7 linked regions of the Homo sapiens genome follow. The protein of the gene in region 3 purifies or fractionates together with the protein of the main gene of each other region. This does not show direct contact. Each region holds a gene or a part of one and is shown on either strand. Other genes may lie near its edges.

Evidence for each region.
Region 1: the proteins of TMEM132A (region 3) and ECPAS purify together in Homo sapiens (affinity purification with mass spectrometry; one large-scale study listed by BioGRID and IntAct). This does not show direct contact.
Region 2: the proteins of TMEM132A (region 3) and SEC62 purify together in Homo sapiens (affinity purification with mass spectrometry; one large-scale study listed by BioGRID and IntAct). This does not show direct contact.
Region 4: the proteins of TMEM132A (region 3) and COX6B1 purify together in Homo sapiens (affinity purification with mass spectrometry; one large-scale study listed by BioGRID and IntAct). This does not show direct contact.
Region 5: the proteins of TMEM132A (region 3) and SMYD5 purify together in Homo sapiens (affinity purification with mass spectrometry; one large-scale study listed by BioGRID and IntAct). This does not show direct contact.
Region 6: the proteins of TMEM132A (region 3) and ENOPH1 purify together in Homo sapiens (affinity purification with mass spectrometry; one large-scale study listed by BioGRID and IntAct). This does not show direct contact.
Region 7: the proteins of TMEM132A (region 3) and NES purify together in Homo sapiens (affinity purification with mass spectrometry; one large-scale study listed by BioGRID and IntAct). This does not show direct contact.

The regions. Positions count from the first base shown.
Region 1 is NC_000009.12:111,372,884-111,376,383, forward strand, and holds part of ECPAS (proteasome adapter and scaffold protein ECM29), read right to left. Parts: intron 2,320-3,500; coding exon 2,230-2,319; intron 1,156-2,229; coding exon 1,089-1,155; intron 524-1,088; coding exon 432-523; intron 354-431; coding exon 287-353; intron 1-286. UniProt on the Homo sapiens protein: Adapter/scaffolding protein that binds to the 26S proteasome, motor proteins and other compartment specific proteins. May couple the proteasome to different compartments including endosome, endoplasmic reticulum and centrosome.
Region 2 is NC_000003.12:169,969,807-169,973,306, reverse strand, and holds part of SEC62 (translocation protein SEC62), read right to left. Parts: intron 1-3,500. UniProt on the Homo sapiens protein: Mediates post-translational transport of precursor polypeptides across endoplasmic reticulum (ER). Proposed to act as a targeting receptor for small presecretory proteins containing short and apolar signal peptides.
Region 3 is NC_000011.10:60,927,460-60,930,959, reverse strand, and holds part of TMEM132A (transmembrane protein 132A isoform b precursor), read right to left. Parts: intron 3,320-3,500; coding exon 3,101-3,319; intron 2,332-3,100; coding exon 2,000-2,331; intron 451-1,999; coding exon 301-450; intron 1-300. UniProt on the Homo sapiens protein: May play a role in embryonic and postnatal development of the brain. Increased resistance to cell death induced by serum starvation in cultured cells. Regulates cAMP-induced GFAP gene expression via STAT3 phosphorylation.
Region 4 is NC_000019.10:35,651,323-35,654,822, reverse strand, and holds part of COX6B1 (cytochrome c oxidase subunit 6B1), read right to left. Parts: coding exon 3,474-3,500; intron 253-3,473; coding exon 152-252; intron 1-151. UniProt on the Homo sapiens protein: Component of the cytochrome c oxidase, the last enzyme in the mitochondrial electron transport chain which drives oxidative phosphorylation.
Region 5 is NC_000002.12:73,224,245-73,227,721, reverse strand, and holds the end of SMYD5 (protein-lysine N-trimethyltransferase SMYD5), read right to left. Parts: intron 2,857-3,477; coding exon 2,762-2,856; intron 2,092-2,761; coding exon 2,021-2,091; intron 1,927-2,020; coding exon 1,776-1,926; 3' UTR 501-1,775; downstream 1-500. UniProt on the Homo sapiens protein: Protein-lysine N-trimethyltransferase that specifically catalyzes trimethylation of 'Lys-22' of the RPL40/eL40 subunit of the 60S ribosome, thereby promoting translation elongation and protein synthesis.
Region 6 is NC_000004.12:82,458,090-82,461,589, reverse strand, and holds the end of ENOPH1 (enolase-phosphatase E1), read right to left. Parts: intron 1,610-3,500; coding exon 1,470-1,609; 3' UTR 413-1,469; downstream 1-412. UniProt on the Homo sapiens protein: Bifunctional enzyme that catalyzes the enolization of 2,3-diketo-5-methylthiopentyl-1-phosphate (DK-MTP-1-P) into the intermediate 2-hydroxy-3-keto-5-methylthiopentenyl-1-phosphate (HK-MTPenyl-1-P), which is then dephosphorylated to form the acireductone 1,2-dihydroxy-3-keto-5-methylthiopentene (DHK-MTPene).
Region 7 is NC_000001.11:156,674,608-156,678,539, forward strand, and holds the start of NES (nestin), read right to left. Parts: upstream 2,801-3,932; 5' UTR 2,658-2,800; coding exon 1,875-2,657; intron 734-1,874; coding exon 609-733; intron 1-608. UniProt on the Homo sapiens protein: Required for brain and eye development.

The sequences.
Region 1 (3,500 bases), on a different chromosome or scaffold from region 3:
TAACCAGGCGTGGTGGCACGTGCCTGTAGTTCCAGCTACTCAGGAGGCTGAGACACAAGAATCGCTTGAGCCCAGGAGGCTGAGGTTGCAGTGAGCTGAGATAGCACCACTGCACTCCAACCTCAGCGACAAAGCCAGACACCATCTCAAAAAAAAAGAAAAGAAAAGAAACAAATGTTTCTAGCAAATCACATAAAATCATGGAGGGTAAGACCTAATTTGTACTGTTTTACTGGGCTGTTAACATCTAAATTTAAAATGACATAAAATAGAAAAAGAAAGGTACCTTCTTTCTCCATATACCACCCATTGAGCTTCTGCAGGAGTTTTTCAGTGCTGCTATCCCGTGAGGTCTGAAAAAGAAACAATCCTAAGTATTTCTTTATAACTGTCAAAGAGTTTTATTTAACTAAGCAAGAAATTTAACTCACCCGAACTAAATGGCCCATAGCAAATGCACAAGATTTCTGAATCACACTGTTCCGATCTGTCAGGCCACTCAGCAAAGCACTCATAAGTTTACCTACCAGAAATAAAGAGAAAAAAATCTGATACTTGGTTGACCAAATGTTCCACTCTGTTCCCAGAACCCAAACAAACCTAACCCTGTAATTAACATCTGATTTACTCCACAGTAGTTTAGATTTCTGGATGTTATATTTATATATCCATTTGCTTCCTTTTACATGATATAAAGTTAAAATTAAACTAGAATATCGTGGAAAAAGATGCAAAATAAGAACGAGGTATATAAAGAACACTAGTCCAGTCTAGAAGCCAATCTAAGAAGAGAAAAATGCTGATGTAAAATCAGCTATCAATGGTAAGTCCTGTGGAAAAGAGGATACTTTTACCTCCTTATACCACTAAGGAATAATCAAATGTTTATGAACAGTGAAAAGCTGCTAAACTTGATAAACTCTGCACCTCCTGCAGACAAAGAAATGAAGGAGTCAGGGGACTGAGGGGAGAAAAGGCACACAGCATCACAAGCAGGTCTGAATGATAAGTATTTTTCCTTTTTAAAACTCTGTCACACAAGACAGGGCTGTGCAAAAATATCACCACACATCCCTTGACAAACTCACCTGAGTAAGGTGTTAGGTCCTGAGGACACTGAGTAGTTAATGACACAATGACACTGGCACAGCCACCCTACAGGGTTACAAAAGCAAAGGTCTAAATCTGATGGTCACAATGTTCTACCTACCAAACCATTGGCTTAGGTGCCAAAAATTTAAACATATAAAATACATGAAGCCTAATACCCCCTCCAGGACTCAATATAGAAAAAGGCAAACTCTTAAACTAGTAATGCAGCGATTTTTTTTAAACCTCCAAGAGAAAGATGGGTGATCTCAGACATTGTGAAAAAGAAAGAAAACTGGTACAATCTTCTGGAAAAGCAAAATATGTCATCTTGTCCATCACTGTGCTAACATTTCCATTTCCAGAAATTTAACCAAATATCTTCAGGTGTGCCTGAAGACACTCATCACAGTGCTTTACTATTTTTTTCAAAAACTGAAAACAAATCAGATGTTCCTTGATGGAGTAAAATAAATGATGTTACATCCATACAGTGGAGTATCATACGGCCATTAGAAGAGGACACTGCAGAAGATACATGTGCAGAAAAGACTGGAAGGAAACACTTCAAAATATTAACAGCAGTTATCTCTGTATGGCAAAATTCTGGACAATTTTTATTTTAACTTTCTCCTAATCTATAAATGCTAAAATTTTAAAATACCAGCAAGTGTTAATTTTGTCATAAGAAAAAATGTGAGTTATTAATTTGTTGTTAAAAGGGTGGTAGGGGGGTGTCTGATCCTTCAAAGATCTTGAAAACTAGGACATTTTTCTATTCAAACACTGCTGACCCCTCTGTGAAAAATGCAATTGCCACCTAAAACAATCCATGCCCTAATAACTGGATGTGCATTTCCATGAACTGCTAATGAATGACAACCCAGAGGGTATGTACACGGCAACCAGAGAACAGAAATGATTCCACTAAATAAGTTAATACTTACTGGAACAGTTAGATGTTTTATTTCTTGAACCAGTTACATGTTTTCAGTTATCAGTGCAACCACAGAAATAAAATGGTTAGTGTATAATATTAGATTTTGTGGTAAAACATGAATTTCAAACATGATGGCTGTTATATCCTTATGGCCAGAACTAATGAAGATGCACATTTCCTCTTGTGGAAAGTACACTTACCTTAGTTCCAAGACCTACACCACTTCTGATCAGTTCACACAACCTAGGAACTAGCTCGCCCAGCACTGACACATCAAGGTATTGCAGGCACTTTTGAAAAAGGACAAATATAAAGGTAAGCCTTGGCAAATAAGTCAGGACCACATCTTCAATTAAAAACTGCCCTTGTCAAACGTGTACCAACTGGATTTGACATGAAGTTGAAAAATCACTGCTTGCTTCTGCTCTGATTTCAATATTAAAACCACTATTGTACTACAAACAGAAAAATTATTCATCAGTGATTCAACACTAAAAACAAACAAAAAAATGAAAAACATCAATTTGCTAAAAAAGAAAAATAATGATTACTCAAGAATGAAGAATCTTTCTGGGCCTACTTCCTCTTTATCAATCCATGTTTAGTATAAAAAACCTAAACTAAATATTGATCTTCTACAGTGGGCCTACCCTACCAAACCCCCTCTAATGAGTCAACTTCTTAGATGACTTTTCCTATAAATTGCTGGCCTTTATTTTTGAAAATGCAATTAACATGTTTTCTATTACTAATGAATATAACTAAATGGTATTCACTAACTATTCCTATTTCTTTAAATTTTTATTTCCCCCCAATAATCCAACTAAGACATAACATTCTTAGACCAAATTTTGGTAATACTCCCCCAGCAGGCACTAAAAAATAGCTACTTCTCTTCACCAGTTTAACATAGTTTTTTGTACACTTCAGTTTTTTTAGGGGTTGGATCTATACCTTCAGAGTCCTGCTAAAGGTACAGATCTGCTTAGCAAACTAATTTCCAGTAAACACAATCATAGCTAACTAACCATTACAGGGAATGCACAACAGAGTAACTTTACCAAGACTCCAGGAAGTTTAGAAATCAGAACCTCAGAATGCCAAGCAGCCCTTTACTGCAAATGCCTTCCTATGACTAAAACAACATATCGACATTGCCCAATCTCTTCACATACCTTTATGTTACCTACTTCATTAAATACCTCCACAGCTTATAACTTTCCTAGTTCCTCCCAAAGATAACTATTAGGCACAGGCACAACTCTGAACCTTTCTAAATAGGCAGATCAAAAGACTACAGATGTAAATTTATAGAGAGCTCTTGATATGTTGTTGTCTCTTGTAATACAAATTTGGACCAACTGTTTCTGGTATTTGGGGAATTATTTATTCCACTTAGTAACAGAGAAGAAAAGAGAAATATACTAAGAAAAAACTGGAGTCACAACAGCTGCTTGACTCATCCCATAAG
Region 2 (3,500 bases), on a different chromosome or scaffold from region 3:
AATGATTTATTTGAGGCCTGACTGCAAAATATACTTTCTGATATAATAAAAGGCAAAAATTCCTAATTAAAATTTTTGAAACCATGCTAAAATATATTAATATATGTTAGTATCAGGCATATTAAATGATAGTATTTAATTATGTTTGTAAAATACACTACACTTCGCAGAGCCTCAATTAGTAAATAATAGTCTATATATCCATACATCTGAAAAAGTAATACTATAAAAGTTGAATACTATAAATGGTTTATAGAAACCAATTCTATTATATAATCACACCACACATGCTCAATTTTTTCCTCATCTGATACATCTGTTGTCAACTTAAAATCGATCTAATTAAATAACTTGTTACTGGGAGGTGCTTGATTAAAAATTGTGGGGGAGAAGTCTGAATAAATGTGACCTGTTCTTCCAGACTTACAGAGTACTCACCCTATCATCTTTGGATGCTACAGTTAACAGCAAAGATTTGTAAGGCATGATATGTACACTCTGTTACATAACTGTTAGAAGCAGTAATTATTATTTCCCAAAAAGAGGGGCAGAAAAAATATTTTTGAAATACACAGAGTAGGATGGGTTGGGTGGCTCATGCCTGTAATCCCAGTACTTTGGGTGGCTGAGGCAGGCAGACTGCTTGAGCCCAGGAAACCAGGCTTGAGACCAGCCTGGGCAACATGGTGAAACTCCTTCTCTACATAAAAAAAAAAAAAAAAAAAAGATAGAAAAAGGTGCTACACATGTGTAGTTCCAGCTACTCAGGAGGCTGAGGTAGGAAGACCACCTGAGCCCTGGTAGGTTGAGGCTGCAGTGAACCAAGATCATGCCACTGCACTCCAGCCTTGGCAACAAAGTGAAAGCACCCAAATTAGGAGTGAGATTATCAATGTGGATGGGAACACTGGAAGAGGAAGATAAAGTTTGAAAGATGAACAAGTTTTGGGTAAACTGACTGAAAAGCCATAAATATTGTGGCTGAGAATGACACAAAATTTGGCTCTAGTAGAGACAAGCTAGGAAGTACTGGGAGATTAAGTGTGTAAAAGCAGAATAGTCATCAAGGTAGGCAAGGAAATTTCTACTTTACCCTGTAAGCAGCAGAAAGACCACTAGTAGTTTCTTAATAGGACATAACTAGAAAAATGATTTAGACATGATTTTGGTGGCTGTGTGTAGGATGAACTGGAAAAAAATGCATAAGGCAGGGAAATGGATGGAAGACTACTGTAATATTCAAGTAAATTGTAGTGTGATACTGGACTATAAATGGGAAAGAAATTTAGATATCTGAAACATTTCAAATGTAGAACACATAGAACTCAATGATAAAGGATAAATAAAATGGCTAGGTAAAGATGTCAGATTTCCAACTTTATCAACAGAAAGGAAATGTGGAAGGAAAGTAATTGTAGAGAATGACCATATCAAATTTAGGCATGATACAAATATACTCATACTAACACTCAGTTATACCATTCCTGAATACAGACATAAATATACTAATCTACTGACTGCTGATAGAGGCATCACATGTAAAACCTGATTAAATATTAGGGTACATAAAAAATTGAGAAGCTGATTACATATTACGCAATAGGGAACCTGATATGTATGCACAAAATTTAAAAATCTCATTCTAACAATTAATTTCAAGTTCACCAAACTCTTCTAAAACTGCACCCTGTCCTTTGTAAAGGCACTATCAAGAGGCAATGAAAGGAAGAGACCAGAAAACACGGACTTGGATAATCTCTCCCAACTAGACACAGAATTAACTTGTTTACTGATACTTTCTTAAAGTATTGCAATTTATTAACTTATAATAACTTATCCATATTGTAGACTGCCTTCAATGCAACAATATAATTTGTGCCATTGCTTTGGCGTTGAAGCCAGAAAGATAGATTGCTGTAGAAGAGTACCATGAGAGGCAGGGCTCAGTGGCTCATCCCTGTAATCCCCACCACTTTGGGAGGCCGAGGTGGATCGCATGAGACCAGGAGTTTAAGACCAGCCTAGGTAACTTTCTGATACTCCATCTCTACAAAAAATTAAAAAAAATTAGCTAGGTGAGGTGGTGCACACACTTGTAGTCCCAGCTAGTTGGGAGGTTGTGGCCAGAGGATCACTTGAGACCAGGAGTTTGAGTCTCTAGTGAGCTATGATGCCATCACTGCATTCCAGCCTGGGCACCACAGTGAGACCTTGTCTCTTTAAAAAAAAAAAAAAAAAGTACCATGAGAACATGAACAGATAGTTGGGATTACAAGCACAAGCCACCACATCCAACGTGCATGCAGTCTTCACTTTCACTGTTCTCCTGATGCAGCATAAGAAGGTATAAAAGTTTTACCTTCTTTTTGTTTATACATTGGACTACAGTACCTCCCCCTCTTTGTTCTCTTTTGATGTAAACAGAATATTTTTATAATTTTCCTAGAAGACTTCTAACAAAGTGAAGGCCTTTTGGGAATAGTAGCACCCACTAATAAAGAGAAACCAACCTATCAATCTTCAAACAAATGGAGAGAACTTCTTAGTTCAATGAATGAACACAACTGTCTTACAATGAGGAAGCTAAGAGCCAATAAATTTAGGCTGGACTGCCTTTCCTTTCTTTGCACCCAACACCAATACACTGGGTGCTGTAACTTAAAATACAAAATTATTTAAATTGGAAGTTTGGTTAGAATACTCTTATAAAATTCTTTAATAAATACTGTTTTTTACTTTAGAATACACCGACACTCAAATACTATAATAAGATAGAGTTTGACATTTCTAAGTTATTTTAGCCAATATTTAACCTTTTTGAGAAAAAAATCAAGAGTAAGTATGTCACAGGCACCAATCTTACAGAATTTGTGATACAGAGGAACTTTTAAAAATTACTACATCCAATAAAAATTAGCTTAGTTGATCTGTCAACCATGAACTGAGCAAAAAAGAAAAAGGCTTGGTTCAAGCAGTATAAAATATTTGTGAAAAATGCAAATAGTAGTTTAACAATAAGATCTGAAAGCTGGAGGGGACCTTAATCATTAGTAACAATATGTGCTACACAAATAACACTATACAAGAGTATCTAGACAACAGCAGTGCCCTTCTGTAATAGCTCCAACTCCCTTCTATTGTATTCTTTCCTTAGCAATGGGTTTGCTAAACTGCAAAACCCTCCATTAAGCCTTTGAGGGGTAGTTTTCTGATTTAGGACTGGCTTCCTGAGTTCTTTCTCTTCAGAATATTCAGAGTCAGAAATTAGACCTGTATAGTCTGGCTATATAGTCCCAAATTTTCTCTTTTCTTCCCTGTCCTGAAATTAAGCACATAAGCCCATGATATGTCAAGGTTTTATTGCTTGCCAGGAAGACAGATGGGTGCAACAAAAATAACTAATGGAGGGTTATAAAAGTTCTAAGAATTAGCCATTTAAATGTCTCAAAACTCAACTGGACATTAAGCAGAATACTGAATGGGATGATTCTCTTTAGCAA
Region 3 (3,500 bases):
GGGATGGAGTAGTGGCTATGAGGGCTCTACCTGGGGCACAGGATTGGTTGGCATCTCTTAGAATAAGACTCACAGACACTTGCTATGCCTGGCACATGGCTGGGGCTGGGAAGATAGTGGCCGAATGAATGAATGAAGGAATGGATTATGCCTGCTTTGTGCTGCTTCCTTGAAAAAATCTGTCCTTGGGTCTGCTCACCTGGGGATCTAGAGGCAGCATGGCAGCCTCCAAATCTGCTCAACTGCACTCTATAACCAGCCCTCCCTCCTTTGCCCCCTGGGTGGAGGGAAACTGCCCACCTGGAATCTGGCTCTGTGAGCCCAGCACGGTGGCAGGTGATGAGGGTGGTGTGGTGCCTGGAGCCCTTGAAGCGGTCCAGCTTGGCAGTCCAGAGTGTGGGCTGGGCTGGGCGGGCGGCTGTCACATGCAGCCCCTTCTTCACCTTGATCCTGGGGAAGAGAGTATAGGCTCAGTTTGGCAAGGTGCATGCTGAACTGTGGGCTGGATTGAAGGGGAAAGACAAGGAGCCAAAGCCATCTGACCTCCCTGGCTCCAGTCTGAATCTCCTCTTCACCATCCTCCAACCCAGAAGGACCCCGCCTCAGTGCAGCTCACACCTTACAGCTCTCCCCCACCCAAAGACCACTTACGCCTCCCCACTGCCCATAAGGTCAAAGCTTAGCCGGGCATTTGGGGGCCCTCCAGGGTCTGGTCCAGCCTTAACTTCGGTTGTGACATCTCTCCATGCACTCTCTGCTTCAGCTACACACAAGTTTCCCACACACACGGCACCCATTCGTGACTCCAAGCCTTTGCCCAGTCTGTGCCTTCAGCCTGCTCTGCCCTTTCTTACTTTACCTGCTGATGCTTTAAGCCTCCAACAACTCACAGACCATTTCCTTTAGAAAGCTTTTCCAGTGGTGGGATGAATTTCCCCCTTACTGCACCCACTCACCTGAGCTCCCACCGCACTTTGAACCTCCCTCAGTGCTTACACACCCACATGCCTTCTAATCCAATTCATGCCCATCCAGCTCCCTTCCCTACCACTGGGGCCCCTTTCTGCCAGATAGGGACTGGCCCTTGCTCGTGTTTGGATCTGCAGAGTGAAGACACAGGGCTTGGCAGGCTGTAAGTGTCTAGGAAAGATCTGCTTAATAAGAGTGAGCATAGGAGGGCGTAGGAGATGGGGAGACACAGAGACGGGACATGCACAAACCCAGGCAGGGCTTGAAACTAGGTCTAGGTTTCAAAGCATGTCCACAGACCGCTCTTCGATCCTCAGGAAAGATATCATTACAAAGTGAGCAAGTCCCAGTGCCTCACCCTAACCAAGCCCAGGACTATCCTGCCTAGAACTCAGGCTTCTCAGAATCTTAAAGCCTAAGAGATGCCTCTCCCATGGATTCCTGCGCTGGACTCCAGAAGCAAGTCATACTCTGCAAGCCCTTGCCGGGTGAACTGGGTAGGTGGGTGGGGGCTGCTTTGGGGGAACTTATTACGGAAAAGGACACAAAGAATCAGGGCCTTCCTATGGGGAAGAGCAAGCTCTGTCCAAAGGCTAGACTCCTACGGCGAGGGTGGCAAGGAGGGACAGCATGTAGGTGAACGTGATTGGGGCAAATATCCCTCTCTGGAGCACTGGAGCAAGAGCTCACACTTAGGTACTGCAGTCTCTAAGCCCTTTGCGGGTTCCCCTCCCTGGAGACTTGCAGCTGCCCTGAAGGTGGACCGTTAGCCCCATTGGACAAAGGAATCTCAGGGAGGTGCCAGGGGAAGGGGCAGCTTCCTACTTCTGACTCTAATTCCAGGGCTGTGCCCATGGTGGGCTCCTACCAGCACAGTCATGGCTTTTTACCTGGAAGGAGTTTAGTTTGGTGGACACATGTTTTGCAGAGGTCAAGGATTCCAGCAAGGACCCCAGGAGGAGCAGGTACCTGTCCCTAGTCTTCCCACAGAGGTTCCCACCCTCACCCATCCCCGTGGCCTGGTGCTCACCGCAGGGTCAGGAGGCTGGCTGTGAAGTTGTGCCGAAGCAGGAGGGTAGCACTAAAGAGCTGGCCGGGCCGCACTGGCATGTCAGGCACCCGCAGAGTCACAGCCTCGTCCAGAGGTACCTCCTGGTACTGCGGGGGGTCTGCTGGGCGCAGCTCCACACCCCCCACTGGGAGGGCCTGCTCCCCAGGGTCGTTCTCCTCGCCGGAGCCACAGCCCCCAGGGCCCTCAGCTGCAGGCTCAAGCGTGTAGGCCAGCTCGGCCCGTGTGGTGGAGGCCTGTGAGAACCAGTGCGAGGGAAGCTCCAGCTCCACCACGCAGGCGCCCAGGGATGGCTGTGAAGACACGACAGCAGTAATTGGCATGGGGGTGGGTGCAGGGCGAGGAACAGGATTCTCAGCACCCATGGCAGGAAACCCAGAGCTGGAGGGGCTCATGAAAGGGAGGCCCAGCATGGGCCGGAGACACAGCCTGAGTGACACAGCAAACCAGCAACCTGGCTGGGGCTTCAAACCAGGTCTAGGTTTCAGAGCATGTCCGCAGACCACTCTTCAGCCCTTGGGATAGGTCTCATTACAAAGTAAGCCAATCCCAGGGCCTTACCCTAACCAAGCCCAGGACTATCCTGCCTAGAATCCAGTCTTCTTCTCAGAATCCTAAAGCTCAAGAGACGCCTCTCCCATGGATTCCTGTGCTAGACTCCAAAATAGTGGAAATAGCAATTATAAAAGTAACACTACTAATAATGCAAACACACTGGCTGATTGATTACTCTGCCGTAAGCTATCCTTACATTCATCTCACTTGTTCCTTACTCCAACTCCAGATGGGGTAGGAATTCTTAACACCCCATTCTTCAGATGAGGAAACTGAATCTCAGAGAGATTAAGTTACTTACTCAAAGTCACACACCAAGGACTGAACTCCCTCTGGGGCCCTAAATAACCTTTTCACAGCACTGAAAGCTAGTGGGGGCAGAAATGGAGTCGGGTGGTCCACAACCCCCGCGCTTCCCAGGAGTGGGGGTTTCCTCTCTGCCGCGGGCCCACCACCTGGCTGATGCAGCTGCAGCAGGACCAGCCTAGGTGGGGCCTGTCTACTCACCTGGAAGCGGCAGGCTTGGTGAGCAGTGCCGGCAGGGTGTGTGGCATGGAGCCGGGCACAGGGCAGGCTGCCAGACCCTGGTGGCCAATCCTGCCCTTTGAGGTGGAAGAGAACCCGGGCGTAGGGCTCTGCTGGAGTCACAGCCGCTTCCACTGAAACGGCCCGCACGTCCCATGGGACTGGCCGTTGGTGGGGCTCAGTGACTCGAGGGGGGACCACCTGGAGGGAGAATGAGAGGGCTTAACAAAAGAGGAGCTTGGGAGGGGAAGATCTAGGAAGATGGGATCCCAGCTTGGCAGAAGAGAACCTTTATGGGCCTCAGTTTCCCCCTCTGGAATATGGGGAGCACAGCCGGGGCTGGGGAAGGCTCCCAATTTGTACCCAGCAGACCTCAGGCCCT
Region 4 (3,500 bases), on a different chromosome or scaffold from region 3:
TCTAGGCGGGAGGAAAGGCACTGAGTCCTGGGACAGTGTGGTGCCCTGTCCTCCCTCTGCCCCTCACAGATGAGCTCCCACCAAGCCACCACACTCCCCTCTGCTAAGACCCCACCCCAGCATCCCAAGGGCCCTGGCAGGAGGCACATACCCAGGATGTGGGGCAGAGGGACTGGTACACACGCTGGTACCATTCGCACACAGAGATATCGCCTCCTTTAGCGGTCATTGCCTTCTGACAGCGGTGGAAGTCTGTGAAGAAAGGGGTTCAAGTCAGCCCAGATCAAGAGTTGGAACACATTTTTTTTTTTTTTTGAGGTAGGGTCTCAATCTGTCACTCAGGCTGGAGTGCAGTGGTGCGATCTCAGCTCACTGCAACCTCTACCTCCTCCTGGGTTCAAGTGATTCTCCTGCCTCAGCCTCTCAAGTAGCTGGGATTACAGGCACCTGCCACCATGCCCAGCTAATTTTTGTATTTTTAGTAGAGACAGGGTTTCGCCATGTTGGCCAGGCTGGTCTTGATCTGCCCACCTCGGCCTCCCAAAGTGCTAGGATTACAGGCGTGAGCCACTGCACCCAGCAAAATTACATTTATAAAGATGTTTACAGCCACACCATTTGTAAGAACTCCAAAATGGAAATCACACAAGTGTACAGGCATAGAATAAATTGTAGAAAACTGGACAGCAATGAAAATGAGCAAGCTATATGCCACAGCATGTATGGATCTGAGAAGGTACTGAATGAAAAAATCCAAACACAAAAGAATACACACAGTATGTATAAAGTTCACAAAGAGGTGAATCTAAACACGGTGGTAGCCGGGCATGGTGGCTCAGGCCTGTAATCCCAGCACTTTGGGAAGCTAAGGCAGGTGGATCACTTGAGGGTAGGAGTTCGAGACCAGCCTGGACAACATGGTGAAGCCCTGTCTCTATTAAAAATACAAAAAAGTGGCTGGACCTAGTGGCTCATGCCTGTAATCCCAGCACTTTGGGAGGCCGAGGCAGGCAGATCACGAGGTCAGGAGATAGAGACCACGGTGAAACCCCATCTCTACTAAAAATACAAAAAATTAGCTGGGCGCGGTGGCGGGCACCTGTAGTCCCAGCTACTCGGGAGGCTGAGGCAGGAGAATGGTGTGAACCCAGGAGGCGGAGCTTGCAGGGAGCCGAGATCACGCCACTGCACTCCAGCCTGGGCGACAGAGCGAGACTCCATCTCAAAAAAAAAAAAAAAATACAAAAAATTGGCCAGGCACGGTGGCTCACGCCTGTAATCTCAGCACTTTGGGAGGCCGAGGCAGGCAGATCATGAGGTCAGGAGATCGAGACCAGCCTGGCCAACATGGTGAAATCCTGTCTCTACTAAAAACACAAAAAATTAGCCGGGCATGGTGGCACGCGCCTGTAGTCCCAGCTACTCAGGAAGCTGAGGCAGGAGAATTGCTTAAACCCGGGAGGCGGAGGTTGCAGTGAGCCAAGGTTGTACCACTGCACTCCAGCCTGGGCAACAGAGCGAGACTCTGTCTCAAATAAATAAATAAAATTGGCCAGGCATGGTGGCTTACACCTGTAATCTCAGCACTTTGGGAGGCTGAGGGGGGTGGATCACGAGGTCAGGAGTTTAAGACCAGCCTGGCCAAGATGGTAAAACCCTGTCTCTACTAAAAATACAAAAAAAAAAAATTAGCCAGGCATGGTGGCAGGCGACTGTAATCCCAGCTACTCGGCAGGCTGAGGCAGAGAAGTGCTTGAAGCTGGGAGGCGGAGGTTGCAGTGAGTCGAGATTGCACCACTGCACTCCAACCTGGGCGACAAAGCGAGACTCCGTCTCAAAAAAAAAAAAAAAAAAAAATTAGCTGGGTGTGGTGGCGAGCGCCTGTATTCCCAGCTACTCAGGAGGCTGAGGCAGGAGAATCACTTGAACCCGGGAGGCAGAGGTTGCAATGAGCTGAGATCGTGCCATTGCACTCCAACTTGGGCAACAAGAAACAGACTCCATCAATAACATAACAACATAACATATATAAAATAAAATAAAATAATAAACATGGTGGTAAAAAACAAAGATGTGAGGCCGGGCACAGTGGCTCACGCCTGTAATTCCAGCACTTTGGGAGGCTGAGGTGGGTGGATCACCTGAGGTCAGGAGTTCAAGATCAGCCTGATCAACATGGTGAAACCTTGTCTTTACTAAAAAAAAAAAAAAATACAAAAAATTAGCTGGGCATGGTGGCGGGTGCCTGTAATCCCAGCTACTAGTGAGGCTGAGACAGGAGAATTGCTTGAACCCAGCAGGCAGAAGAGGTTGCAGTGAGCCGAGATCGTGACATTGCACTCCAGCCTGGGCAACGAAAACAAAAAACTCAGTCTCAAAAACAAAAACCAAAACCAAAAACAAAGATGTGATAACCCCCAGTTAGTGGCGTCACTTCTCTACTGGGGAGAGCGGGGTGCTGTGTTCCAGACAGGACATAAAGAAGGTGGGGAGGCCAGGCGCGGTGGCTCATGCCTGTAATCCCAGCATTTTGGGAGGCCGAGGCGGGTGGATCACCTGAGGTCAGGAGTTTGAGACCAGCCTGACCAACATGGAGAAACCCCGTCTCTACTAAAAATACAAAAAATTAGCTGGGTGTGGTGGCAGGTGCCTGTAATCCCAGCTACTTGGGGGACTGAGGCAGGAGAATTGCTTGAACCTGGGAGGCGGAGGTTGCAGTGAGCCAAGATTGCACCATTGCACTCCAGCCTGGGCAACAAGAGCAAAACTCCATCTCAAAAAAAAAAAAAAGAAGGCAGGGAGATGAGAGTGTGGGCAATGTCTGCTTTTCTCTCCAGGTTATGGTTGCACAAGGGGTTCACTTTAGAATTATTCATTTAGCTGTACATGTTTGTTATGTGCTTTCTGTACATGTTACAGTACGCACACACATACAGCTTAAAAAAAAATCATTGTAGGGGCCAGGCACGGTGGCTCACACCTATAATCCCAACACTTTGAGAAGCTGAGGCAGGAAGAGCGCATGAAGCCAAGAGTTTGAGACCAGCCTGGGCAACAAACTGAGACCTCTTCTCTACAAAAAAATTAGCCAAGTACAGTAGTGTGGGCCTGTGGTCCCAGCTACTCGAGAGGCTGAGGTAGGGGGACCTCTTGAGCCCAGGAGGTTGAGGCTGCAGTGAGCTATGATTGCACCACTGCACTCCAGCCTAGGTGACAAAGTGAGACCCCATCTCTGGAAAAAAACAAAACCAAACCATAATAATAATAAAAAATTTAAATTAAAAAAAAAATCATTGCAGGAACTAAAGTTTGTAACCCTAGCCTGGACCTGAACAGCAGGTGATGAGAGGCATGGGCCTTCCAGAGTAAGGATGTTCAGAATAAAAGGGAGGAGGCTGGGGTGGATGGGTCCCCTAGGAAGAGGCAAGCGGTGAGTGACTCGAGGTATGTGGCCAGGGAAAGGTCCTGCTTACCCAGGTAGTTCTGCCAGCAGTTTCTAG
Region 5 (3,477 bases), on a different chromosome or scaffold from region 3:
GCCTGTAATCCCAGCACTTTGGGAGGCCGAGGTGGGAGGATCAGTTGAGGCCAAGAATTCAAGACCAGCCTTGGCAACAACATAGCAAGATCCCATCTCTACAGAAAAATTAAAAATTAGCTGGGTGTGGTGGTGTGAGCCTATAGTCCCAGCTACTCAGGAGGCGGAGGTGGGAGGATCACTTGGGCCCAGAAGTTCAAGGCTGTAGTGAGCTATGATTGCATTGCTGCATGCCAGCCTGGGTGACAAGGTGAGACCCTGTCTCAAAATTTAAAAACCACCCAAACTGGACCTCAGAGGACCCTTGCTCTTGGGCATTAGAACATTTGCATAGCAGGGTGTAAATAACAGTAGAGGTGAGCCCAAGCTGGTGAGCCTGGAGCTCCCATCTCCTACCATTACCTGGTCTAATTGGTATTCCTTTGCACCCACCTGTGCCTGCTGCACGCCCGGGGCAGCCTGCCCAGCCACTTGCCACAAAGCATTCCTGCAGAGGCCTCTCACCACTCACATTTTATTGAGAACAGTGGGCAGGGGGGCTGGGAGAGGAGTGCTGACCGTTGTGAAGGAGTAAGAACCCAATGGGTAAGGGGCCAGACAGGTTTCACCTGGCTCCATGGTCCAGGAAAGGGCCTGTGGGGTGGGCACCTGCCCTCTCTGGGATCCCTCAGCAGGAGAATGCAGCAGGCTCCTCCAGGAAAGGGAGGCATTGGGAGTGATGGGTTGTAATTCCCATAGCATCCAACCCAAGAGTGAGAGGGGTGGTGCTAATCTGGGGGTAGGAGGGGACAAGACAGGGCTACTCTCGAAGTATCTAGCCCAGCTCCTCGAGGTTTCTGGAAGACTTCAATGTTAGTCTGTGGAGACCCTAAAGATGGAGATTGAGGCCAGGAGAGCCCCTCACTGACCCATTTTAACTGGCCCCAGGAATACCAGAGCATCCTAATCTAAGGAGCGCAGGCCTGTCAAGCCCCAGGTCTCAGCCATGCTGCTGAGTGCTCATTGGGAAGCAGGTGTGAGAAAGGGTGATGACCCACTATGTGTCCCTCCTGAGGAAGGCAGAGGCCTTTTCCATACTCCATAAGGCCAGCCACTGTGCCAGGTCCTGAGAGGCAAGGCACGAGTCTGGGGGAGGGGTTAATCTCCACTTCCCCAGATGTCCAAATGGGGGTGTGGGTGGGGGAAGTAATCCCCCTGGTCCAGCATTCCCAGGAGACAGCCTCAGGGAAGGGGCTCAGGATGCCCAGATCCTCCTGCCCGCCTCTGCTTGCTGGGCCAGTGGTCAAGCAGTTGCCTTACCAGCCACAGCTGTGGTGGGGGGAGGTGAGGACGCCTCACCACCTCCCATCTCTGCTTCAATGAACTCGGTCTTTCTTTTACCCCTCAAAAGAAATCAACAGCAAGTTGAGAGGGGAGAAGCCTCAGGTGAAGGGGTGAGTATGGGCCGTGGGGCCGAGGGGAAGAAACACTGTTAGGCCCTGGCCCTGATTCCAGCCCCTCAAACCCTAGAGTGGAGGAACCTCAAGGGGAGGCCAGTTGTGAAAGGCTCAGTGCCAGTGCAGAGTCTGAGCCAACTCAGCAGCAGTGTCCAGGGCATGAGGTCTGGTGGGGGTTGGGGCCAGAGATCCAGGCTCTCTCCTACCCTCTAGCAGAGAGGGCTGGAATGGGGAAAGCAGGCAATGGGAGTGGGAAGTTCCCTCCAAGCCACTTCTCTGGGGGAAGAGCCCCCTTTTCTGGCAGGGTCTAGGGCAGGGCCCTTTCTGGGCAGGGCAACATCACACATCAGTCATCTCATCCCCCAGCTCTGCATCTTCTGGCTCTCCTTCCTCCTCCTCCTCCTCTTCCTCTTCCTCTTCTGAGGTCACATTGGGTTCATCAGCCTCTGCCAGGCATTTGGGACAGGAACAGACAAATAGATAGTTCTCCCTGCAGCGGTGGGGGATGGTGAGGGGGAAAAGTCAGGGAGCTATGGGTAGAGGACCCCAGAGCCCAGCTGCACAACCATGTCCCCAGCTGGCACCTGAGGATCTTGTGGCGGCTGTGGCGGCTGCGCTCCCGCTGACAGCAGTCCAAGTAGCTGATACAAATTTCCTGTAGGGCAGAGAAGTGCAGTCTGATGGTCTGTGCTCTTTTAAATGGCATAAGGACCTCCCCAACAGCTACCCTATCTCCAACCACTGCCCCATCTCTAGGAGCCAAGTTTGCGTTGCCCTTCAGTGAAGGGGCTGGCTGCCCTCATCCAGTTCCCAGTGCCTTCAGTAGGCAGGCCACTATAAGGCTCCAACAGCCTGTGCCTGAGACAGAGGAGACTGGTTGGCCTCAGGCCGTGGTGAAAGCCAGTCAATGGCCAAGGTCTGCAGCTGGGATCAGAGGTCTTGGTATGATGCTACTTGCCCTCAAGAAGATTCAACCAGGCACTGTGCCTGCACTAACAGACAAGACCCTAAACCCACAAAGAGCTATCTCCTGCTTTCTTAGAAATTACATATCTGCATTTGACCAAAAGATAGCTGGGGACAAGAATCTGAGCACATAGGTGTCCCTCAAACACTGTCCTGAGGCTTTCTGGAGTCATATTTTGAAAAAGCGAGGTAGGGTTAGAACCTAACCATGAGCTGAAAGACTCAGACCCTAAGGTATGTGGGGATTCCACCCAACAGCCTGAACTTCAAGGTGCTCTAGCCACTGCTGCTCCTGATCCCTGCAGAGAACTTCCAAGGCCTACTGCCCACCCATCCCGACGGTTCCTGGTCCCCCTCACCTCTCCTGGCTTAATATCCTCCAGAGCAGTGACATGCAAAAGGAAGTTGTTTTCTGGAAAGGAGGTCTCTGCATTGGGCACACAACTGTGGTTGCCTGGATCATAAGAGGCAGGTAATGAGGATTATTGACTAAAAAAAATAATAGCCTCAATTCTGCAGAGCACTGGGTCCTTTCTTGCTCGTTCATCCCTGCCAAGGCTGAGCACGTTTTGGAACCCAAGTTTCTGGACTCTGCATCCAGTGTTCTTTCCTGAAGACCATATAGCACAGCACAAATGAACTCCACAGCACTCCCACTCCAACTCGCTGTGACTGGCCAACTTCATTCTCAGTCGTGTTCCCACTGTCTCGCAAAGGGAGGGACAGGGCTCTGAAGGAATGCCCACCCCAGACCACTTAACTCAGTTCTGCCTGCTATTGGACATCTAGTAACAGCTGACACAGGCCCTCTGAGAATCCAGTTTGGGAGGGTAGAGTGGCCCTGGAGCCTGGGAGGAGGAGTTTGCAGTGAGGAAACCAGGGGGTGGGAAGCTGAGGTCTGGAAAAGGCAGTTGTCTGAGCTGAATCTGCCCCTTCTCATCAGGTGCTGATGAGACTCGCCCTGTAGCCTGGGCTCCCAGTACTCCCAAATCTCACAAGGCAGTGACGGTGCAAAGCCCATGCATCCCTTTGCAAGAATCAGAGCTCTATGCCTGCCTTAGTACAGGGCCTGGCC
Region 6 (3,500 bases), on a different chromosome or scaffold from region 3:
ATTATTCCCATTTCTAAGATGTACCTAAACTCATTTCCTTTCTTTTTTATTCATATATTTTCATAGACCCTAGATTTCTTAATTGGCTACTAGATCAAAATTATCAACATAAAATCTTTTATATCCCCTGTCCTCTCATAGTTCTAAGACTTCTTTTTCCTTATTCAAAGCATTTCTAAAATTGCTCCTCCAGGATTCGTGAGTTTTTCTTGATTAGTTAGGAGAGTAACTCCCTCCTTCAAGCATTACCTTAGAGACCTCAAAGTTAAGATTCTCAAAAATATAAGGAACTCCACTCATATCCTGAATGCTTACTATCCAAATGGAATAGTAACCTTATATGTATACATAACTCAAATAATAACCATGAATTGCCACCGGCACTCCATTAAAACACACACATGATACACGATTAAGATAAGAGCTAAATATTCTTGTTTTTCAGTTTCTCTTTTGCTATGGCGGCATGTGGATAGAGTTCAGGAACCTATATAAAACTGAGTGAAGAAAAAATGCTTTTATTAATCACAACATGAAATTAACATGACATCGTATTAGAATTAAACCAGGATAAATACTGCTGTTATAAAATTTACATTTCTCACATCCATTCCAGAGGAAAATCTTACATATTAGGGCTCATCTTAATGTTATGGACTGATTTCAGTAAAACTTTTTAAATAGTAAATAGCAATTAACGTATTCTCAAACTGTGCTAAGTAGTTAGAAAGGCAACTATAAAATCTATAATGATAACACGTGGCAGGATTAGAACTGTTCTGTTAAACATTAAGAACCACATCTCTGTTTTAGATGTTACCTCAGTGCACCTTTTTCACTGGTAAGGCAACTGCTTGCTGTGGGTGCCACAATGATTACCAAGTTTCTTCTTAAGTAAAAGACACTTGTTTGATCAAGACTCAAGTGAGTTTTCTTTCCCAATTTTGTTCTTTTGAAGCAGAAGGAAATACCTTGGTCTTTGATATATATAAGGAGGCAAATATGAAATACAGCTGTTATAATCTTCTAAATCACAAGGGCAATGAATTATTCATTTTCTTTGAAAATATTCAGTCTTTGAAATATTTCATTTTTAAAATAACAAGGCTTCTGAATAATTTCTCAAAACTAGCTTTCCATTTTAGTACACGATTTGATAAACATAGCACATTAGATAGGTATTTAGCAATTTCTTCTACCAACTACACTTTGCCCTCACTAAGGGTTAGAGTATGATTTGAAACAATTTCTACATATAAAGCATCTTTAAATAAGTTTTGTGTTCACTGAACTGAGACTTCTTTCACTTATGTACCTATGGAAGTTAATCTGAGCATACACATATATACATACTTGCATACATATGTGTACATATGTTTTTTAAGTAAGTTACTTTTACCATTAGAATAAACCTAGACACTACAGGGACAACTCTGGGGAACAGGGCGGTCTGCCTTAACAACCCTTCTCTAGGTTGAGGAAGGCAGGTATAGTTCACTGAAGGATGTGATGAGGCTGTAGTAAGTCTTCTCATCATCTGTTAATCCTGCGTTGCCTGGTCTCACCACCACAGCTACGTGCACATCTGCTTCCTCAGCAGCACTGGCCTCTGTGAAAAATCAAAGGATGTGTGTGTGTCAGAAACACCAAAAAATGATGTCTGAGATTTGCAGCAAAGTCAGCAGGGGGATGTGGGGATGGAAGAAATGAATTTGGCCCTGATTTGATGACTGTTGAAGCTAAAAGATGGGCACCCTGGGGTTGACTATATTATTATCTCTTTTATGTATGTTTTAATTTTTCCATGATAAAATTTTAAAAAATACGTAACTGTACTTGACAGAAGAGAATGGCAGTGTATCCTACACTTCTGAGCTTTATTAAGTACTTATGAATGCAGAAGGATGGAGCCATGTTCTGTCCTACACCTTTCCTCCACTTCCTCCCATCAGCCCATACCGAGAACTGAGCTGTTTCCCAAAGGACAAGCTGTTGGTAACACGAATTAAAATGATATGGGGCTGGGCACGGTGGACCCAGGAGTTCACTTGAACGCCAGACTTGAGTCCAAGAGTTCGAGACCAGCCTGGGCAACATGGTGAAACTCTATCTCTACAAAACAATACAAAAATTAGCCGGGCGTGGTGGCGTGTGCCTGTAGTCCCAGCTACTCAAGAGTGCTGAGGTGGGAGGATTGCTTAAGCCCAGGAGGTCAAGGCTGCAGCAAGCCGAGATCGCACTACTGCACTCCAGCCTGGGTGACAGAGTGAGACCCTGTATCAAAAAAATAAAAACACAAAGAAGATAATGGGACAAATGGAATCCTATGGTTTAATCAGCCCAAGATATCTGCTCTTACCTCCAGACCCTAAACATGTCATACTCCCAGCCTAGAATGGAGCAAGTTAGAGTGGGAAATGGGATACAGGCCTGTGATAAGAGAGATGGCGCTTACTAGGACAGATAGAACAAAACTGGTGAGAAATCTGGAATATATATATATAAATCCCGTGGAATTTAGATTTGGTGTAAGAGTAATCACCATTAGTTTCTCAGCCTTTGGAGAAGAGTCACAGCACCTGAACAGATTAACTGAAGGGCAGTCGTGCTGAGAGAGTTAAGTTCCCAGGAGACACACTGGGGCTGAGCTGTTTCTTCCACCCACCCACCTCCTCAAGTGCCTGCTTTCTGTTCTGCCTGTGAAAGGGCCTGTCACTTTCCCAGAGCAAACAGTACTCAAGACTCCCCTCTCTGTGTGGGAATGTCTTCTTCAGACCACCTCTGCAGATGCCATTGGAGAAAGGCAGCTATCTTCCACTCACCCCTACTTCCTAGCCTGACTGCCCTGAGCAAAGTTTTCATCGTGACTGGCAACCCGGGAATATGACCAAGTTAAGCCATCACAATCCACATGGGACTTGACACTACAAGTGGCCGTTCCATATTCAGGCTTTTTATCTAATTCACTGCAGGGCAAGTTTTATCCCTAAGCATCTATTTGCTCTACTGTTGTAATGCTGAGACACTTTTTCATACTTGGGTATTATTTGGGATTTTATTTTTTATTTTATTGTGTTTTTTCAGAAGGGTCTCTCTCTGTCGCTCAGGCTGGAGTGCAGTGGCATGATCTCGGCTCATCCCAACCTCCGCCTCCCAGGCTCAAGCAATTCTCCTGCCTCAGCCCCCAGCCGAGTAGCCAGGATTACAGGCGTGTACCACTACTGCCTGGCTAATATTTGTATTTTAGTAGACACAAGGTTTCACCATGTTGGCCAGGCTGGTCTTGAATTCCTGACCTCAAATGATCCACCCACCTTGGCCTCCCAAAGTGCTAGGATTATAGGTGTGAGTTACCGCGCCCAGCCATTATTTGGGATATTAACTTAGTTTTTCATTCTGCCTCAGCAGTGGAAGTCTGGGCATGTGGTACCAAAACAGGACCAGAGAGAAAAGAGCAAGCAGGCAGACAGCTCCCTGCCTCATCCCAGCTGCCGATGACC
Region 7 (3,932 bases), on a different chromosome or scaffold from region 3:
AGAAGCCACCCCTCCTTGGTCTCAGCCATTTCTAGGATAACAGAAAATGTGGACAATGAAAGGCTGGGCAGGACCAAGGGCACTAGGGGCATCAGAGGAGTCTCGCCCCATGACATCCAGGCTAGAAGAGGCCTTGGAAGTCCCCCAGCCCAGCCCTCAGCCCCTAGACGAGGCTGAGGCCCAGGTCAGGTGGCAAGTCAGTGCAGCCACCCCATGCCTGCAATGCCTCCTTTCCGTGGCTGCCAAAGGACATGACCCCCTGGGTGCGGGCACACATAGAGTTGGAGCTTTGCCCCTTGGGGGAAGGGTCTGGATGCAGTTGCCCCACACGGGCCCAGCCCCTCTCCAGAGGCTGTCCCGCTCGGCAATATCATCTCTCCTGGGGGGATTTCCTGGGCACAGGACATTGCTCAGGTCTCCAGCCTATGGGGGAGCAGACGGTTTCAGGCAGGACATGTTCCGGTGTGGAAGTGACCAGCCTAGAGTCACAGAACCCAGTGGCAGCAGAGTTGCCATCACCTACACCTCTGGTCCCCTTCAGCCACGTAGTCTGCCCCAGCATGTGTGTGTGCCTCTGTGTGCCTGGGTGGACAGGGCTCGTCTCGTACCTGTACGTGGCCACCTCCAGGCTGAGGGACATCTTGAGGTGCGCCAGCTGCTGCCGACCTTCCAGGACCTGAGCGATCTGGCTCTGTAGGCCCTGTTTCTCCTGCTCCAGGGCCTCCACAGCCAGCTGCAGGGCAGGCGAGAGGCAGTCAGTGGAGGGGCTGGGGTCCCTTCTGTGAACCAACCTGCCTCCTGCCCGCTGCCGCTGCCCGGGAAGCACCTCCTGCTCCCTGGCTGACTTATCTGTGTAGCAGACCCCCGCCTCCCCTACCCTATTCCCTGCCCAGAGAGCCCCCTCTGGATCAGCCAAGATGAGCCCAGGGCCCCTGTCAGCACTCTCAGCTCTCTCCCATGGCCTGCTCCTCCTCTGAGGATGCTGATTAAATGGTAGCACATGTTGCTCAGAACACAGCTCCCACAGGAAGGGGAGGTGAGGGAGGAGACGAGATGGGTTATGGAGAGAGAAGAGGGGGAAAAAAAAGCGAAAGCAGAAGGAAAAACGATTAATCAAGATGCCTGGAGCCTGCAGGACTGGAAGGCAAACAGCCCCCGTCCCCCGTTGGTCCCATCTCCCACAACTGTCTCCTGCTCCTCACAGCAGGCTCTCACCCCCGCCCCACCCCCATTTCCCACATGTTCTGGATTCTGTCTCCTCTGAGAGGAGGGATGGGGAGGTGGCCATGGCACCTCTGTGTGGCCCAGGCAAGAAGCTGTTTTCTCAGCTGCTGGTCACATCTGTGCCCTGTGAGAAGGAGCAGCTGTTATGGGCCTCTGGAATGTGCTCCAGGGAGCCGAGAAGCCATGACATGGGAGGGGGCTGGTAGCCATTCATTCACGGCCCCTCACTCCTCCCCTCAGGAGAAGGAGGGCTGTGAGGAACTTGGTGATTCTGAGTGGCCAGGCCACCAGATTCAGCGCAGAGGCGACAGTGCTGGGTGTCCTCCTAGTAATACCAGAGCCTGGGAAGGGACCCGGAGCCCCGGTCATCATCAGAGCCAGAAGGTGCCATCCAGAGAGTGGCGGGGCTGCTGCAACGGGTCTTGGGCCTGACTGCCCACCCGGGATGTGCTTCGAGAAGCCCCACCATTCGCATCCTACACTAGACGGGCTGTAAAAGTCTAGGACTTGTGGCACCAGGTTTCTGAGAACTGGCTCCTGATTCAGCAGCCAGCTAGCCCCACTCCCTTCCCAGAAGGTCTCTGAGCTTCATAAGGGACTTTCTGGAGCTTTCTGGGACTTTCTCTCACCCAGGCCCTCAACCTCCTCACCTGGAACTTTTCAGTAGCCCGCAGCCGCTCCTGCCAGCGGCCCTCCAACCTCTGTTCCAACGCTGCCCTGCGCTCCAGGAGGCCTCCGCGCTCAGCCTGGAGCTGCTGCAGCTCCAGGCGGCCCTCGCGGGCACCCTGCACCGCCCGGCCCAGCCGCTCGCGGGCCTGGCCCAGCGACGTCTCCATGTGTGCCACGCGCTCCTGGTAGCCGCGCACTGCCCCGCGCCACGCCTCGCCCAGTCGCCTTGCCAGCTCCTCTACCTCCGGGGCCGGCGCGGGAGGCCCGCGGGGCGGCGCGGGGCAGCGGGGGGCACAGGCAGCCTGCGCGTTCAGGCCGACGCGCTCCTCCTCGTGCGCCACGCGTAGAGCCTCTAGCTCGCGCTCCAGCTCTGCCACCTGGCTACTCAGCCAGGCCCGGGCGCATTTCTCTGCCTCGACGGCGCGCCGGTTGCGGGCTACCTCCTCCGTCGTCCGCTCCCGGGCCAGCCGCAGCTGCTGGCATCGGCCTGCCACGCCCTCCAGCTCTTCAGCCAGGTTGTCGCGCGCCACCTCGGCCGCGTGCTTCTCCCGCCAGCGTTGGTCAACGAGGGCCCGCAGGGCCGCCAGCTCGTCGTCGGCATGCGCCCGCCAGGAGGTGTCCGCGGATTGTGCCCGGAGCCCCCCGAGCTCCGCGCTGAGCAGCTCATTCTGCTCCTCCAGCGCCTTGACCCGGGCCAGGTAGGCCTCCAGGCGCCGATTGAGCTCCCACATCTGAAACGACTCCTCCCCCATGCAGCCCTCCATCCTGCTCGTCTGACCCACTGAGGATGGACAGACGCGGGGCACCGGGAGAAGGGAGCGGCTCGCAGAGCTTTTAGGACGGAAGAGAAAAGAGACCGACGGGGACAATGACGGGGCGGGGCGGGGTGGGAGTAGCCTGAGCGACTGAGAGTCGGGAGTGGGAGCGAGGCTATTCATACTCCCGCCAGGCGGGCGGGAAGAGGGGCGGGACCCAGGCCTTAACCCCTTAGAGGTCAGAGAGTGGCAGCAGCCTCTGTTCCTGCTTCCCCAGGGTGCTGGAGAGTGGAACCAAAGAAGAAGCTGTACCATGGAGAATCGGATCTGATGGTGGTGGCTTTCTGAGGGAGGAGGCTGTGAAGAAGGGTCACAATCCCCGAAAAAGGCAGATAATGCACAGAACTGAGCCTGTGGGGGTGGGAGTACCAGGACGTTCCAGCCTGGGAGGGAGTGCAGTCTCAGTTACTCAACACATCCGAGAGAGGTATCACTTACTGAATTCCTCTAAGACTCAGTTTCCTCATCCATAAAATGTGAGCAATGATGGAAATCGCATGGCTGCTGAAAAAAATGGATGTGGCCAGGTTTTTGTTTTTCGTTTTTGAAATAGCAAATGCTCCTCCTCCTGAAATACTGGAGAGAGTACTACAGCATTGCAGAAAGAAGCTAGAGAGACGCTGCCTGGAAAACAAGAACAAATGTCTGATATTAGGACACACGGATACACACACACACACACACACACACACACACGCACACACGCTATTGCCTGAGTCTCCATCAGAAAAGGGAGCGACCAGGTTAAGGGCCGTCATGGGCTTAAGAACGTTTGTCCATCCTTCCTACAAGTCTTCTGTATAACTGCGAGGTTCAAACATCCGCTTTAGGAAGTTCTGTTCTTGGGGAAGGGCCCCTTCTCCCGCACCCCCTGCCAGGGAATGTTGGGTAGTGGACGCCCTCTGGCGGCTTTCAGAAGTGGAAGCAGCAGGAAGAGGCCATTCTTTTCCTTCCTAACGACTAGCCCAAGTTTATCCAGCCTTTATGATGTGCCCAGTCGTGTTCCAATATTTTACTTCCATGATCTGACTTAATCTTCAAAACAACCTTTTAAAGATTCTACAGTTTATGAAGTAGAGAGCTCACCAAGGGTGAGAGTAGTAGGGAAGGCTTTCTGGACGGAGTGCATCCTTGAGCTGGGAGGTAAAGGACAGGTGGGATTTGGGGGATTTACAGTGAAGGAGAAGTAGGGCTGGGGAGGAGATGCAGGGATAATGAGACGGA